Linked DNA regions of Homo sapiens: region 1 is linked to region 2. The links come from fine-mapping of genetic effects on plasma protein levels. Region 2 holds a variant in brackets. A gene starts in the other region. All regions are shown on their reverse strands.

Region 1 (5,000 bases), not on the chromosome of region 2:
TGTAAGATGGCAAGTTATCTCTTTTTTTCTTTTTTTTTTTTTTTTTTTTTTTTTGAGACGGAGTCTCGCTCTGTCGCCCAGGCTGGAGTGCAGTGGCGGGATCTCGGCTCACTGCAAGCTCCGCCTCCCGGGTTCACGCCATTCTCCTGCCTCAGCCTCCCAAGTAGCTGGGACTACAGGCGCCCGCCACTACGCCCGGCTAATTTTTTTTGTATTTTTAGTAGAGACGGGGTTTCACCGTTTTAGCCGGGATGGTCTCGATCTCCTGACCTCGTGATCCGCCCGCCTCGGCCTCCCAAAGTGCTGGGATTACAGGCGTGAGCCACCGCGCCCGGCCATCTCTTTTTTTCTTTTTTTTTTTTTTTTGAGACAGAGTCTTGTTCTGTCATCCAGGCTGGAGTGCAGTGGCACAATCTTGGCTCACTGCAACCTCTGCCTCCCAGGTTCAAGTGATTCTCGTGCCTCAGCCTCCCAAGTAGCTGGGACTACAGACGCACGCCACCATGTCTGGCTAATTTTTTGTATGTTTAGTAGAAATGGGGGGTTTTACCATGTTGCCCAGGCTGGTCTCGAACTCCTGAGCTCAAGCAATCCACCCACCTCAGCCTCCCAAAGTGATGGTATTACAGGTGTGAGCCACCATGCCTGGCCTGCAAGTTACCTCTTGATTTAAAATATTTTCCAATCATGAAGGAAATTGACTTGATTCTGCTACTTCCCTCCACCTCTGACTTTGGGGGTAGGGGACAGATAAGCAGAAACTGCTGAACATGACCCTCAGCCGGCTGGGCAGCCATCCCTCAGCCACAGTGAGCTTGATTTGCGTGTTCCAGTAGGAAGCAAGGAGTCAGGTCCTTCTCTAGTCCTGGGGAACAGGAGAAGGGTGGGGGAACCCCTGATTCCTCCCCTTCTGTAGCCAAAGCAGACTAGTTTAGGGAGGAGACAGGGAAACCACCAGAGCAGGTCAAGATCAACCTGAAGGAAGTGGGAGTCAGGGACAACCTACTAAAGGAAGTGCATGTGTGCCTTGTACATGCATGGGGTGGACCAAGGAAAAGATTTACCCTAAAAGAACAAAGTATGCTCCGACAAATCTATTGAAAGGAATGATTTACACTGGTGCTTCCTGCCCAAATGTTGAGACCAATGGCCTGGTGCTTCCTTCTTGAAACTAGGTTGCTCTACTTACATGAAACAAACTGGGCAGAGGTCAACCGTGAGAGCCTGAGCCTCCCCAAGTAAACAGCAAAAGATTCCCCAGGCCCAACAGCCCCCACCCCCACCTTCAAGGAAAGTGGATCTACCCGGAGCACGTAGGCCAGAGGAGGCAGGAGAAGAGGGTCAGTCCGTGAGCTCCGGGTACCTGGAGAACATGAATCTCCCGGGTGTACTGTCCCCATGAGGGTCACCGAGGAACCTATGGATCTTCCACTCTTCGCCCAGAATGTCTTCCCTCTATCCCCTCCACCTCCCCAAATTCCAGCACCAGGGGCCACCTCAGAGCCACAAATCCTGAAAGGACCACCCAGGTGACTCGGGCCCACACACCCCTCTTTCGGGGTACACTTGGTGGCAGGCTAGCAGGCTTTTGGCCTCAGCTGGTGGTGCCATATAACCAGATTCGTCACAGAGACCCATTTTTTATCAGTCCCAGGCCAGAAGTACGAAGACTGATCTTAACGATGTGGCCTGCCTGGGAGGTAAGGCGGCAGGCGTTGCCAGAATTGATGGGAACTGTGGCACAGGTGGGAAACCTGGTTTAACAAATTCTTCATTGATTCAGGGGACCACTTTCCTTGAGCCAAGTCTTGGCAAGCGGCCGGCGAAACTCACAGGTCCCTTTCCTGGCTGCGTCCCCAGCCTCCAGCCTTCCCCGCCCCAGAGATGCCCCAGGAGCGGCCCCTCGGTGTAGGTAACGGGTGCCCGGGCGGCTCCGCTCCGCCGCCTAGAGCCTGGAAGCCGCCACTGCGGCCCAGGACAATCCGGCTACGCGGCCGGCGCCGACCCCGCACGCTGGAGTCCGCTGCCGCACGGCGCTGGCAGTCGGGGGTGGTGTCTGAAGTCAGGCGCTTCCTGCCTTTTCGTCGGCCCGGGTGCCCGGCTCGCGCCGCCAGGCTCTGGGATCCCAGGTCGCCCCGCCCAGCAGCCCGCGCCCTGCTCGGTGCGCTCAGCGTCCCCGCCCCTTACCCCAAACCCCCACCCTCTGTGCCCTCAGGGGGGCACCCCCATCGGGGCGGGAGGGGGGGGTCAGCTGTGCCCCGGTCGCCGAGTGGCGAGGAGGTGACGGTAGCCGCCTTCCTATTTCCGCCCGGCGGGCAGCGCTGCGGGGCGAGTGCCAGCAGAGAGGCGCTCGGTCCTCCCTCCGCCCTCCCGCGCCGGGGGCAGGCCCTGCCTAGTCTGCGTCTTTTTCCCCCGCACCGCGGCGCCGCTCCGCCACTCGGGCACCGCAGGTAGGGCAGGAGGCTGGAGAGCCTGCTGCCCGCCCGCCCGTAAAATGGTCCCCTCGGCTGGACAGCTCGCCCTGTTCGCTCTGGGTACGTACGCCGGCTGCGGCGCCCCCTGCGCCGCGCGACACCCTGCTTCCCCCGGTCCCCGCCGAGTTCCCCTTTCCGGGGGTTTCTGCGCCCGCCTGGGAGAGTGGAGAGAAGCGAGTAGTCTCAATGGGTTGGCGCCTGGGAGGCAAGGGGAGTCATTAAGAATGACAAAGAGGGGACTGTCCGGTCGAGCGCCGAGGCTTCCCCGGGAAAGTGGCTGCCTGGGCCGTGCGTGAGAACACCTGGGAAGGGGAAGCGGAGTGTGAACGGGCTTGAACTTTAATCCGCCGCAGCTGTGTGTCTGCTCAGACACATGCCTACACCTACCTGCTTACCTGGCTGCCTCCAAGCCCGGCTCAGCCGGCGTCGCTGGCGTGTAGACTGGGCCGCCTCGGAACGGGGGCCGGCGTCTAACCCTCTGGCCGGGTCTTGCCTGCGCCCCTTTGGCACCCCCTGCCCACCTCTAAGCCCCAGCGACGAGCAGAGATGTTCAAGATCGGCAGAGGCGCCCTCGATCTCTTTTCAGAGCTCTTGAGCTTTGGGGGTAGGTTTTGGATTTTTGGGCGGATTAATGGTTCCTTTAATTAACTTCCCTGGGAGAAGTGGTTTCGGTGTCCGCCGAGGGCAGGAGCGAAACCCTAGACCGAGTGTTGCCAGTTTCCTTTGAGTATGTCCTTGGAAATGAAGGAGGGATGGGAAAGGTGAGGGGAAGTTAAACCCCTCTCCCGGGTCGGGTCTGCGGAGCGGTGCGTTTTTTGGCGGTGAAGTTCAAGGGTCTGTCTGGACGCGGTGAGGGCGCAGCGCCGCGCGCCTCCTGGCCAATTCTTGCCCCTTGTGCTGGTGGGTCTCTCTGGTGTTGAGATAGCTGATCAATAGCGCAGGTGTCCTGGTTATTGCTAGTCTTCCGTGAAGTGAATTGTTCGTTCGATATGCCCCGAGTTTAACCCGTATAGCATGCGGCTCGCTGCAGGGTGGTTAGAGTCTGTGGAAAGCCATGGAACTCCTCCCCAGAAATGCCCAGAGCCGCAGCCTCACCCAGCTCCGTGTACAACTACAGGGGGTTCGCGGCCCCGCCTGCAAGCCTGCCCTAGAAACGCTGATTAAAAACCGCAGCAGAAGGGGAGGCATCCTGTAAGAGAAATACAAGGCAGTCTTGGAACCGGATGCTCCCAGCTACACCCTTACCTGAAACTCACCAGCAGGTAACATGGGTATGGGAGGCTTTTCCCCCACATTTTTGAAGAATTGCCTTTTTTGTGTGCATGTATTGACTGTTGCTCTGATTTAAATTTTAGAAAAAGCAATAAAACATTACCAATACAAGGGAAGCTTCCTGGATATAATTATCCCTTGTAATGTTTTTGCAAATAATAGTAGTAAGTAGTAGTAGTAATAACAGCTGATGCTATTCGAGCATTTTACTCTGTGTCAGACACAGTCCAAGTGCTTTACATTTATTCATGCAGTTTTCACACCAACCGGATAAAGAAGGTGTTAATATTATTCTCATTATATAGCAGAGGAAAGTAAAGCACACAGGGTCCACAGTAAGTAACTGGACCAGGATTGTCGAAGAACGTGGAAGGAATGTGAATATGAAAAGTCACCTAACTTGTGGTCATTATAGTCCCATCTCTCTTTTGGGACTTTGCCTTAAAGAGAGATTATGTGGAATACCCTGGAACTTGTTGTTAAATTGAGTTTCCTATTGAATTCCTGGGATCTCAAGGTGGTTATTCGGTAAAAATTAGAGGCAGGAAATGATGAAGATAAGCACATTTGAGTAAGTGTTTGAAAGCTGTCCCTACACCCCACACTCCCATCCCAGAATTCTCGCCCACAAAGACTGCATTCATTCATCATGTAATTTTTCTCTTTTGCCTGAATGTTCTTTTCAGCTTGATCTTTGTTTCCTTCTTTAAGAAAATGATGTATAAACTTTAAAAGATTGATCAATATGTAAAAACTTGCTCACACAGTTCCAAAATGTGAGCAGTTGAAAAAAGTGGAGAAAAAAAAAAGGCAGGAGTAATTTACACCAGTGAGGACTCCTTTTTATTTATATGTCTTTAAAAGAAAAATCACAGCTGTGAGTTCTGTGCGTTTACTAGAACTGCTGCCTCCCACATATAGCTTTACTTTGCACATTTCCTTCAAAGCTGCTTTCCCCTCTGATTTTTCTTAAATAGTTGAAGGCAGTTCCAGGAGAATCAACCAGTGTTCCATCGCTACCCGAGATCTAGGAAACCTCCGTGGGGCTAGTCTGAGAAGGAACTGGCTGTTAGGAGTCTCGGTTAATGTTTGATTACTTGGAACCTGAGCATTGATTAATGTTTTCAGTAAGAGAATGTGAAGACTGTTGCCCAAATGGCAACACTGGAAACATAACCCAGGTTCCTGTGGTGGCTGCCCTCCCATGTCAGGTTTCCATCACTGGCAGGCAGACCGCACGGGGGCTTGGCATTT
Region 2 (5,510 bases):
GGCACTTTCTAGGCTGTGGATTCGCAGAATTTGAGCTGAAAGGAAGCGCCCCGATACCATCTGCCCCCGTGGTTTCAGCGCGGTCGGGGGTTTCTTCTAAGCGGCAAAGCACTTTTTCAAAAACGATTTTGCATGGAACCCCAATAAGGGGGCAGATGGGGCGGCAGTGTGTGTGGCTGGGGCCGCAGGAGCCCTGCCCAACCCCCTCCGCCTTCCCCATCACTCCCAGAAGGCCACTGCAGGCACCCACTTCATAGCTCAGAGAGGACTGGGACCTACCTGGGTCACATGGCAGCCCAGGACAGAGTGAGGATGGGACCTCCGTTCCTACCCCAGGAGCCTCTGCCGCTGGTCCCCCAGGAGACGTGGGCCCAGGAAAAAACCGGCTTCTTAAGCCTGTGTGCCCGCCAGGACCTGAGCTCTGCCTGCCTGCCAAGACCAGGGCTCAGTCTGCCCTGCTTGCCGGGATACAGGCTCGTTCTGACGGTGGAGGGTGGGTGCTTTCTCTCTGCCTGTTCTGGGGCCTAAACACAAACCCCCTGCCCCTGGTGCCCCCCGGCCTTGGCAGACCCACCAGGGACTCTCATTTCCTGCCTTGGCCACCTACCAGCTCTGGGGCCTCGGGCAAGTTTCTGGACCTCTCTGTGCCTAGTTTTCTTGGCTGTGAAATGGCTTCATCACTGTCCCCACCTCCGGGGTTTGTGATAAGGATTCCATGGGATGTGGCGGACACAGTGCCTGTCACATGAAAACCAATTAATAAAAATGGGCCGGGCGCGGTAGCTCACGCCTGTAATCCTAGCACTTTGGGAGGCCGAGGCAGATGGACAGCCTGAGGTCAGGAGTTCGAGACCAGCCTGGCCAACATGGCGAAACCGCGTCTCTACTAATAATACAGAAAAATTAGCGGAGTGTGGTGGTGGGCGCCTGTAATCCCAGCTACTCGGGAGGCTGAGGCAGGAGAATTGCTTGAACCCTGGAGGCGGTGGTTGCAGTGAGCCAAAATCACACCACTCTGCTCTAACCTGGGCGACAGAGCGAGACTCTGTCTCTAAATAAATAAATAATAAATAAAAATGACAACGCCAGTGATGCCTGCAGCAGCAAAGCCTTGCAGGCCCCAGCGAACACTGGCTGTGTTGGGCACAGCTCTAGGTGCTTCCCAGACAGCACTCAGTTGATCCTGGGGCCAGAGCCATCATTCAGCTATTTTTACTTGAGTAAACTGAGGCACAGGGAGGGCAAAGTGCCTTCCCCCGGGTCACAGGCTCAGAAGGGCAGGGGCAGGCCAGGGCCGCGCCTGTCAGAGCCCGAGGCGGCTTCCTGCCGTCCCTCCTCCTCCTCCTCCTCCTCTTCCTCCTCCTCCTCCTCCTCCTCCTCCTCCTCGCACTCCTGCCCCGAGAGGAAACCGCCAGGCCTCCGGCGGACGTCCCTTTCTTTCTGCTTCCCCTTTCCCACACCCGGAGGCATGGGGGTGGCTCCTGCATCCCCGCCCAGGCTCTGGGCCCAGAGCCCGACTCCTGTGGCCTCCCCGGGTCTCAGTTTCCTCCTCTGTAAAGGAGGTGTGAGGGCGGTGCCACCTGGAAGAATCACGGCAAGGACGGACGGGCACGGCCCTCCTGTGCCCAGGCAGGGTCACAGCCCACCCAGAGGGAGCTGCCCACCTGTGCCTCTGCCTCCCCTGCAGACCCAGGCACACCCAGGAACTGAGGCCCCCAAGGGATGGGTCACTCATCAGACACCCGGGCTCCTGTGCTATCTCTTGGGGGGACTTTGTGCTCCCAAAATCAAGGTCAGAGTGGCCTTGTTCCAGGGCTTCTGGGTGCCCCAAATGTCTCCTGCCAGAAGGGTGGGCCCGAGGCTGCCCCTCACCTGCCCTATCAGTGCTTACCGTAGCCTGCCCCCCATGACACTTCCCATTTTACAGAAAACTGAGGCCCAGCAAGGCCAAGTCACACACCAGGGACACCTGGCTCGAAAGGGGATGAGTGGGGATGGCTCTGAAGCACATTTACCCCCGAGTCGCAGCCACTCCTACCCAGACCACTGCCTCCTGGGCACTCAGGCCTGTGATGCAGCGGGGGGCTCAGGGCTGAGGGCTAAGTCCCCCTGAGGCATCCCCCAGCCCCTCTTCTACCACTTCTCCAAGCTGGGCATCAGAGGCCATGGGTGGGATGTGCCAGGCAGAGTCCTCTGTGCCAGGTGAGGGGCGCTGGCCAGCCCCCTCCAGGCCTCGGTGTTGGCATCTATAAAATGGTGGCATTGGATAAAATGGCCACAGGAGCTTTTCCTAGTCCAAGAGCCCAAAACAGGTGCCCCCACCCATGCAGGGCCCTAGTTAACAGTGCCATCAATAATACTGACAGTAAGTCCTTCTAAGGACTCACTGCTCACAGGGGCAGCCAACTGCCCAGGTTCCAAGCCCCTCTCAGCCACAGGGGCTGTGAGACCTTGGGAAAGCCACCTAAGCTCTCTCAGACCTAGTCTCCCCATCTGTGAAATGGGCCTAATGGCGCAGCTACCCTCACAGGGCTGCTGTGAAGATAAAATGAAGCCAGGTCAGTAAAGTGCCTGCTGTATAAGGAAAGCCCAATAAATGGTGGTTTAAAGGGCATTTATCAACAGCTAGAACTCCATCATGTCCTCCACTGTACAGATGAGGGAAACTGAGGCTCAACCTCCAGAACCACCAGGGCTGGCAGGACTTCAAGACCATCTCAGCTAATCCATGCCTGGGCATATGTGGAAACTGAGGCCCGGCAGGCTGGGCATGCTCCATTTGAAATGGGAGCCCCACCTCCCCGGGAAGGTCTGGGGCCCAAGGCCAGCTACTCCAGCCTAGCAGCTGCTTCTGGAATCTTTCTCCTTCCCCAGGGCCCCCACTGCTGTCGCCTCCCCGTCAGGCTCTACTGCTGAACCAGTGGCAGCACAGGCCAGGCTGGGACCCCCTCCAATGCCGGCCTGGCACCGCCAGATCCTCTGATTTTTTTTTTTTTTTTTTTTTTTTTTTTTTCCTGAGATGGAGTCTTGCTCTGTCGCCCAGGCTGGAGTGCAACGGTGCAATCTCAGCTCACTGCAACCTCCACCTCCTGGGCTCAAGTGATTCTCCTGCCTCAGCCTCCCGAGTAGCTGGGATTATAGGCACACGTCACTGTG[G/C]CCAGCTAATTTTTGTATTTTTAGTAGAGACTGGGTTTCACTATGTTGGCCAGGCTGCTCTTGAACTCCTGACTTCAAGTGATCCATCTGCCTTCGCCTCCCAAAGTCCTGGGATTACAGGTATGAGCCACCGTGCCCGGCCGATCCCCGGATTCCATAAGAGAAACCAGAAGTCTGGATTCTGTGAAATCTCTCCACTTTAGGTTGTAAATGTGGCAACCAGTGCAATTTCCTTTTCTTGTAACTGCCAGGTGAGACGCACACCTCAGGCCCAGCCCAGCCTGGAGCTGGGTTATACACTCTCTGGTTTGAACCAGTTCAGCAGGGGGCCAAGGGCTTGGGGTTAGGGGCCCCTTGGGATCAAGAGTTCCTGTCTCAGGGTTCAGATCCCCTTCACTTCATGATCCCAGGCAAGTCTCTTTGCTTCTCCCAGTGCCTCAGTTTCCTCATCTGTCAAATGGGTCAGTGAACTCCAGCTCATGGGAAGGTCCAAGAATTTAGGGCAACACCTGGCACACAGAGGCACACATTCAGGGCCATGAATGTTGGGGCTCAGAAAACAACACCCCAAAGAAAGGTGCTGTGGCATGCTACGTACTTGAACTAAAGAAGACTAGAAGGGCTCAGAAGGGGCCCTCAGAAGCAAAGTCTCTCTCACCTCCTTCTGCCTTCCTGTCTCTCTCACCCTCCTTCTCCCCTGAAGTGAGTCATAGAAACTAGGCGGCTGGGCACAGTGGCTCACGCCTGTAATCCCAACACTGGGAGGCCGAGGCAGCAGGATCACTTAGGGCCAGGAGTTTGAGGCCAGCCTGGGCAACATAGCAAATCCCCATCTCTCTTAACAAAAAAAAAAAAAAAAAGATAAAAGAAAAACGGAACCAGAATTCTTCCTCAAGGTGGGTCATAGAATCTAGAACCCCTCTCCCTGAAAGCCAGCCATAAAACCTAGAAATATAACTCTAACCTTCCCCTACCTTCCTGGGTAGGAGCCATCCACAGAGAAATTCTCCAACCTACCTTGTCTGAGGGAGGCAGGTTGTAAGTTCCAGAGAGGTCCTGCCCTACACTGGGAGGAAGGAACACCATGCAGAGGCCAAGAGGAATGGGAGCAAGCAGGCCTTGCTGGGACCCCGCCTCCGTCTAGCTCAGTAGATCACACCCTTTCATCCCAATCCCATTTTTACGCAGCTATCCCTGCTCCATCAAACCTAAACACCAGACAGACCATTTCCTGGGGTCTTTCGGTCTTCATTCCTGAAAGCTACATGTCACATAAAACTTTGATTCAATAACTTTGTGATGCTTTTCTCTTGCTGACCTGTCTTGTTGCAAGAGTGTCGGTCGTGAGCCCGATGATGGGTGATGAAAGGCATGTCACCTTTCCCCCACATAAACACACTGCTCCCCTGTCCTTGCCCTGCCTGGGGCTCAGCGGTGCCCAGGGGAAGGAGGTCTCTAGAGGAAATCATGTCATACTCTCCCATCGCGGGCCTGAGCTGGGAGACCACAGGTAGCCTGGAGGGTCCCTTGCACCCACTCCCACCCGCAGGTGGCCCCAGCAAGTGTCTCAGGCCCTCTAGGCCTAAATCCTCCAATTGTTCCCACTGCTCTTAATGTAAAACCTAAAGTCCCCACTGTGGCCCACAAGGGCCTCTGCAATCCAGCTCCACTACCTTTGTAGTCTCACCTTTCCCTGTTCCCTCGAACCCCAGGCTGCCTGGCTATTCCACAGACTTGCCTGGTTCACGCTCACTGCAGGGCTTGTGAACCTGCCATTCCTCAGCCTGGGACTCCTTCACCCAGATCTATCAGGACCGGCACCTCCTGCCAAGAGGCCTTTGCTGACCAACCCCAGGGAAGGCAGCCCCCTCCCACCTCCCAAGGGCCCACGCTGCCCACCTGCAGTGGCCACTGAGACCAGAGAAAGCTGGGACTTTTCTCCCCTTCTCCTGACCTTGGAAAACACAGACATCTCCTCCACCCACACCCCCACCCCTGGCAGACTGTGGCCTCCCCTTGCACACCCCCAGTCACAGAGTGCTCTCTCCCAGCGCAGCCCTCATAGTGCCCCTGGAGGTGCTACACCATCACCCTGCTCCACAGGCCCGCGGTCACACAGCAGGTCGGGGGCAGAGCTGGGGCCCAACTGCAGGTGAGGCTCACCTGTGGGCTGAGCCCACCTGGCCTCAGACTTCTGGGCAGCTGCCTTCTCTTGGCTCTCTCCCTCCAAAGCCTCTTCCAGCCCTGGGCAGCAGGGCCTCCACCAGGCTGGCACTGGGATTACATCTGCTCCCTCTCCTGCAGGGCACCCTTTAAGTGACAGACCGCAAGTGCAGATCCAAAGCTTAAGCCCT

Alleles and levels. Positions count from the first base shown, and alleles are read on the strand shown. Strength reflects both the effect of a copy and how common the allele is.
For the plasma level of the protein whose gene starts at base 2,436 in region 1, allele G in region 2 goes with a higher level than allele C (weak association).

Evidence for each region. A credible set is the group of variants that fine-mapping cannot tell apart. PIP is the chance, under the fine-mapping model, that this variant and not a neighbour inherited with it causes the effect. The UK Biobank Pharma Proteomics Project read protein levels with antibody pairs (Olink). The fine-mapping took linkage between variants from a reference panel, not from the people measured, so its PIPs are less certain.
Region 1: TGFA starts here. The variant in region 2 is the best candidate, but not a certain one, in a credible set for the plasma level of the TGFA protein (UK Biobank, PIP 0.50).

What each region holds. Positions count from the first base shown.
Region 1 is chr2:70,551,262-70,556,261 of GRCh38, reverse strand. TGFA (transforming growth factor alpha) reads left to right here and starts at 2,436. Exons shown (of 6, transcript NM_003236.4): 1 at 2,436-2,534. The coding sequence starts at 2,495. LOC124907824 (a long non-coding RNA gene) reads right to left here and starts at 3,554. Exons shown (of 2, transcript XR_007086906.1): 1 at 2,870-3,554. RefSeq lists a silencer at 2,306-2,375.
Region 2 is chr12:111,424,892-111,430,401 of GRCh38, reverse strand. The region is part of intron 2 of SH2B3 (SH2B adaptor protein 3); the gene reads right to left. Among named protein-coding and RNA genes, the nearest start is that of SH2B3, 22 kb to the right of the region's middle. RefSeq lists an enhancer at 4,316-4,891. The variant G/C (reference allele first, on the strand shown) is at 3,157.